Homo sapiens: one gene and its partner. The protein of the gene in region 2 interacts with the protein of the main gene of each other region in a pairwise test. Each region holds a gene or a part of one and is shown on either strand. Other genes may lie near its edges.

Region 1 (3,500 bases), on a different chromosome or scaffold from region 2:
TTCCTATTGTCTCAGGAACAGATTTCATGCTGGTTTCTTCTGTTTTCCTGCCTTGACCAGGAGTTGCCCTCTGGAGCACATTGGTCCTCCATGGGTTCATTTTTTCCTGTTGTACCTCTAAGACCTCTTAAGTCCATTTGGTTTCTGTATCAATTAACCCTTCCCTTCAAGCATCCTTTGCCAGGCCCCTCCTCTCTGAGCAACTACAGAAACTCAACTGACAAAAGCTACACTTACATTTCCAGAGTATTTAGGAAGGGTAATACTTCCTAGGATGATTAAAACCCTGATGTCAATTATCTTGACTTAAATCCTACTCAGAGAAGAGGTAACAGAGAACATACCATTGGCCTTTAATATGCATACATTTGAGTGAGTCATGCATGTAGATGAGTATAACCTGCCTGCATAGAACCAAAAGATTTTTGTAAGTTCATGTATGTACAAATATACATACACAAGTGTGTGTCTTTTGACACTGTATTTTGCCTAGGGGTTGTTTTCAAATCAACAGGGAGGTGGCATTGCCAGGAAATGGCAAGTCCAAAGAGAAAACAGATTGAAAGGGACTTAACTGGAGAGGAAAATATGCATTTCCTACAACAAACTGACCTGTCCATTTCCTGAAGGCAGCAAGCCTCTATTACTGTACACCCTTATTAAATAATCTCATTAAATAGGAACACCAAATATACACATTTACAGTTATTAAATAAGCCATAGGACTCTTCTTCTATCTACAGCCACATTCGGAGACGGCCATGCCTTCGTATTTAAACTTGTAGGTGACGACGCCTTTGTCTAAATAGAGGATGGAGATGGGCTCTAGCTTTGTGGGCACACAGCAGGCTTTGGAAGCTTTCTGGGAATTCTTGAGGTGGACCAAGGCCTGGATAATTGCATGCTTTGTGGGTGTGAGATGCTCTGCCAGGGGGTAGTTACAAACACCACGGCATTCATAGGCTTCGTATCCAGGCGGAGCGATGATCCAGGAGTCCCACCCAATCTCCTTGAAGTCGATGTAGAGCGGGGTCCTCTTACAGTAGTTTCCTTTGGCGTTCCTTCTGATTCGGGCAGTGGAGTCATAGATGATGTTTGATCTCATCTGCAACAAAGCCTCTTCCCCAGGTCCACTGGAAAAGCTATCCAGGCCCAAGTTGTCCAGCTCTGGAAGTTGCTCATGGGAAATCATTTCATTCAGTTCCTCCTTCCTCTCCTTGTCACTGCTTTGGTCATCAGAAAACACGATGAGCAAAGGGTTATGCTTATTCTGGGCACTGGTATCTATTTCTAGCCGTCCACTGCTGGCATCCTCAGCTTCATCGTGTTTGCTCTCAATGTGGACCTCCAGCTGGTGGGTGGATGAGCCTGACTTTTGCCAACGTCTGATGGCATCTGTGACATCAAAAGTCTCCCACTCACTGTTGGTTCCATATATCTCCCCAGACACCAAGACCAGCATGTTTCTTTCTCCCTCATTATCCCCTTTGCTCTCCAGCACTTCAAAAATGGTAATTTTCCGGTCTACTCCATCGTATATCATACGATCCCTTTGCACCAGTGTGTATAGCCTAAGTTCAGCCATGATGACCTCTTCATGGTGAGGAATGGACACATTGAAGAGGAGGGGGTATTTTCGGAGCCCATTAAAACTGACCGGCTGGGAAAACAGATCTGAAAAAAGAAATTTGCAAAAATCAGGTTTGCAGTGGGTCTCAGGGAAAAACAGATGCTTATTTATGTAATAAGAAGGCCTTCCCATGCACAAAGCTTAATGCAGAAAGAATGAAGGGAGAAAATCAATGAGAACAAACACAATGTCAGCATTCTGTGACACAGGAAATCCCAAAAGGTCAGTGGTAGAATGCCCAAAAGAGTTCAGCTGCCAAGACTAAAATGGAAAATGGGGGTCTAATGGATGGCATAAAACTCAGCCAACCTTGCTTGAATAGCTCATCAGCCACAGAATTACAGAACTGGGAGGGACCTTGGAGATTGTGTGGGCAAGTCCCCAAATTTCCTAACAAACAAAACGCCACCAAATGGGACATGTGGTGATTGTTCCTTTCTTGAAGCTTTTCGGGGATGAGGACTTCATGGTTTTTTAATATTTGTGTTTGTAGTGGGTGGAGATCCCCGCACAGTTGGCTGGACACTGGTCTTCCTAAAAGACCTCCATTTAGATCAGAGGTTGGTAAACTATAGCCTATGGGCCAATATGGGCCTGCTACCTGCTTTTGGAAATAAAGTTTTATTGGAACACAGCCTCATCCATTGTTTTTGTATTGTCTGTGGCTACTTTTGCACTATAATGGCAGAGTTAAATAGATACAACAAAGAACATATAGCCTGCAAAGCTTAAAATAGTTATTATCTGTCTGGCCCTTTACAGTAGAAACTTGCTGACTTCTGTTCTAGGCAACAAAGCCTGACAAGGCCAATAAGACAGCCATAAACCAAGAGGGTCTCAGCAATTGACTGCTGGTTATATGGTTCTCTATAAAGAGGAATGGGAGAAAATGAATCCTGGGACTAGATTGGTTGCCTTAGTCTTGTACCCCTAGCACCTGGCATGGGGCGTGACATGTATAACTCACTCAATAATGTTTATGAATCAACTCTGTAAAAGTCCTTTAGTCTTAGAAGCATACTTCCAAATACGATCATGTTGACTTCCTATCTGAATATTTCACAGTGAGCCCAAAGCTCCTGCACACTTGCCTCAGGTAATGAGTCTACAAGGAAGCCCTGAAGGCATTTGCCATCAGATTATCAAAGGACTCCATGGCACCGAAGATGCTAAGGACCACCAACTGGGGGTTCTCTGTCATCATTGGCAGCATTTCCCCAAGTTTATACTTAGTTCATGATCTCGGTGAGTCCCTGTTTCAGATTATAATCTTTTAATATTTTTCTTTAATTTGATCTAATTATTTTATACTTATTATCTATTTTAGACTGTTCCTAAGCAACATAATTCATTAAAGGAGAGATTTGAGGTGATATTTATGTGTGTTTGCTAAAAATCCATACTAAGAAAAATATACAATAATTTCACATGATTAATAGCTTTCTTTGGGTACCACCTAAATTAATCTTACACACTGCTAGTGGGAAATGCTGACCTACAGAATAAATTTAAACTCCCTGGCATGGCTCTCAAGACCAGCTATATCTGGGTCTTAACCTCCTGATCAGCCATAGCTTACATACGTCCTCCACAGTGCATGGAACATTGTGATTACTCAATAATATTTGTGAACAATTGAATGGATTTGTAAACCCTTCTGTTTTAACTACATTGATATCTTTACCACCTGTCAAAACACTCTTTTTTTCCCTGCAATTTTCACCTTTTCACATGTTCTTCTGACCCTTGGAAAGCCCTTTCACCTCACCTCCACCTATCCAGCTCTGACATCTCCTATAAAAGCCTCCCTTACTTCTCATCTGAAAGTTCCCTCCTCTCCCCTCTGAAATCATTTGATCACTTTATATCT
Region 2 (3,500 bases):
AAAGTGCTGAGCCAAAGAGTATGTGCATTTTCTTTTAGGCTATTGCTAAATTGCCCTCCAAAAAGGTGTACACGAAGCTTCGCTGTCCCAACAGCATGAGGAGGTTTGATTTATTTCAGGGCATCTGCTGACTGCAGGAGTTTAGCTGGGAACAGACGTGCCCTCAGAACCACAACCAACATAAACGCATTTCCTTCCCAATTTTAGCCTTTCCCAGGGCCAAAAGATGGGCTGGGATACCTTGTCACAGTGTCAACTTCGCCCCAAAGAGCTCTGAGAGGTAAATGGCTGTGGTCTAAATGTTGCCTTTCCGCTATTTGTTTGGGAATAAAGGCTGTTTTTGTTTTGCTCTACAATCCGACAGCGTAAACAAGCTTTCAGGAGGTTTGTTCATACTGCAAATGAGAACAAACTGTTTTCAGTCACTTTAGAAGTACCCACTGGTACAGGAACAGTTGCTATGCTAATTACAAAGCAAGTTCCGCTCCACATTACAGCAGGTTCCCTGCAGATCTTAGCAAGGCTGCATTTTGACGTGGAATATTGAAAGTAAAGACATTCTATAACCCAGACACCTCAGTATTTCAAAACCCCCATCAAAGGACCTTATTGTGGGCAATATTTGAGAAGCCAGTTGCAAAGCACTCTCTTCTAGTGATCAAAGCAGGTCTCCTCTGGACGGCTAGTAAGCAACATTTTGTGAGCTTTGCCAGGTGCTCATTGATACCTGTTCCCTATCTGCCTTTGGAGGGTGAGCTTGGCCAGATATCCCTGCCTAACTTCTATCCCCAGGTAGAGATTTCCCCTATGTGGACCCTCTATCAGATCAGGACTTAATTTCACTTTGAGAGCCTGAGGCTTCCTTACGATCTGGGCTGAGTTGAGGCTGGGGCAGAGGGGCGCAGAGGTTTGGGGACAAGTCTGTGGATCCAGCTGCTTTCTGAAGCCGTAGGCATCTCTGCAGAGCTCAGCCTCGCCACAGTTCCCCACCCCTTCCCCCAAGCGTGGCCAGTGCCTGGGCTGGCACTCACAGGGGAAGGCAGGCATACTCACTCACCATCCAGAGCCAGGCTTATCCTGGGAAGGTGATCAGGCGCTGGCAGAGGTAGCTGCCGACACCGCACTAAGGAGTGTGCCAGGCCCTGACACAGCAGGGTGGGATGGGAGGGGCCTGGCCTGCTCAGGCGGCCTTTGTCCAGGGCCTGCCTGGTAGCCCACGGGGATATATGGAGGAGGGAGTTCGGCTGCTGAGGGTTGGGCTGCCTGGTTTCCCAGGGAGGAAGCTGGGTGAAAGCAGACAGCACATTCTGCTGCGCTGGGGGGTGGGAAGAAGTTCAAAGGGAGATGAGCTGCCTAGACCCCTTCTCTGAGCTCACTGAGAAACCACAGCCCCTCAGCAATGCAGGAGCTCCTTGGGCACCAACTTCTCTAGTCTCATTCCCCTACCTCAGGTTAACTTGTACTTTCATGTTATTTCATAGTCAAGCTACACTCTTACTTCCCAAGGATAACATTAAGAGGCTGGCACTGGGGCTGGGCATAGTGGCTCAATCCTGTAATCCCAGCACTTTGGGGAGCCAAGGCGGGTAGATCACTTGAGCCCAGGAGTTCGAGACCAGCCTGACCAACATGGCTCTGACCAAAATGCATGTTCTAATTTTGCTCTTGGCCTGTTTGTTGGTTTGAAAAAAGGGTAGCTGAGTAAAAAGTCACTGTAGCCTTTGAGTTGGGTTTTGTTGGGTCCGTGGTTTAGCTGATCCCCATTCCGGCTTAGGTCCTCGTGCATGTCCTCCTGGATGCCTTTGTATCTCCAGGGCCTAGCAGGGGCTGGTCCCCACTGGATGTCTGACACATACAGGGTATAGAGGGGTGTGGAAGCCAAGACCTCTTCTCAGAAGAGGGAGGTGCCCTTGCATTTTGTCTCCAAGCTGCTGGGTATTCTCACCCAACCTCTCAGCGCCAGGCACCCTTAGGGCAGTGCCCTCTTACCCTGTAGGGCACCTCTCTGGCAAGCACCGGGGGGCTAACTGCTACCCACTGCACTGCCCCAAGCTGGGAAGAAGGTGAGTATGCAGAGCTAAGCAGGCCTGCAGCCAGATCCCAGCTATGCTACCCTGGGCTATGTGAGCTTGGGCAAGTTAGCATACATCTCTAGGCCTCTCTTTCCATGGATACAGAGAAGATGGTGATGCCTACTTCATAGAGTTCTTATAAGAATTCCCTGAGGCTAGGCATGGTGGCTCACACCTGTAATCCCAGCACTTTGGAGGTCAAGGTGGGAAGATCAATTGAGCCCAGGAGTTCAAGACCAGCCTGGGCAACATAGCGAGAGTGCATCTCTACCAAAAGTGATTTTTTTGATTTTTTGGGACAGAGTCTCGCTCTGTCACCCAGGCTGGAGTGCAGTGGTGTGATCTCGGCTCACTGCAACTTCTGCCTCCCAGGTTCAAGCAGCTCTCATGTCTCAGCCTCCCGAGTAGCTGGGATTACAGATGCCTGCCACCATGCCAGGCAAATTTTGGGTTGTTTTTTTTTTGAGATGGAGTCTTGCTCTATCAGCAGGCTGGAGTGCAGTGGCGCGATCTCGGCTCACTGTAACCTCTGACTCCCGGGTTCAAGCGATTCTCTTGCCTCAGCCTCTTGAGTAGCTGGGACTACAGGCGTGCACCACCATGCCTGGCTAATTTTTGTGTTTTTAGTAGAGATGGGGTTTCACCCTGTTGGCCAGGCTGGTCTCGAACTCCTGGCCTCAAGCGATCTGCCTGCCTTGACCTCCTAAAGTGCTGGGATTACAGGCGTGAGCCACCGCACCTAACCCCAAAAATAATTTTTAAAAATTCACCAGACATGGTGATGCGTGCCTGTAGTCCCAGCTACTTGGGAGAATGAAGCAGGAAGATCACTTGCATCTGGAAGTTTGAGGCTTCAGTGAGCTGTGATTGCACCACTGCATTCCAGCCTGAGTGACAGAGAGAGAGTCTTTCTCAAAAAAAAAAAAAATTCCTGAGGCCAGGCGTGGTGACTCACACCTGTAATCCCAGCACTTTGGGAGGCCGAGGCAGTTAGATCATTTGTCAGTAGTTTGAGACCAGCCTGGCCAACATGGTGAAACCCCAGCTCCACTAAAAATACAAAAATTAGCCAGGCATTGTGGTGCACGCCTGTAATCTCATCCTAGCTACTCGGGAGGCTGAGGCAGAAGAATCGCTTGAATCCGGGAGGCGGAGGTTGCAGTGAGCCCAGATCGCGCCACTGCACTCCAGCCTGGGTAACAGAGTGAAACCGTGTTTCAGAAAATATACACACACACACACACACACACACACATATACACACACACACACATATATATACACACACACACATATACACACACACATATATACACACACACATATATACACACACACATATATACACACACACATATATATACACACACATATATATACACACACACATATATATACACACACACATACATATATATACACACACAC

Evidence for each region. Proteins that work in one complex are often made in the same cells at the same time.
Region 1: the proteins of VSIR (region 2) and BMP10 interact in binary tests that used the Homo sapiens proteins (3 or more experiments, as listed by UniProt).

The regions. Positions count from the first base shown.
Region 1 is NC_000002.12:68,864,898-68,868,397, forward strand, and holds part of BMP10 (bone morphogenetic protein 10 preproprotein), read right to left. Parts: intron 1,675-3,500; coding exon 734-1,674; 3' UTR 1-733. UniProt on the Homo sapiens protein: Required for maintaining the proliferative activity of embryonic cardiomyocytes by preventing premature activation of the negative cell cycle regulator CDKN1C/p57KIP and maintaining the required expression levels of cardiogenic factors such as MEF2C and NKX2-5.
Region 2 is NC_000010.11:71,756,521-71,760,020, forward strand, and holds part of VSIR (V-type immunoglobulin domain-containing suppressor of T-cell activation precursor), read right to left. Parts: intron 1-3,500.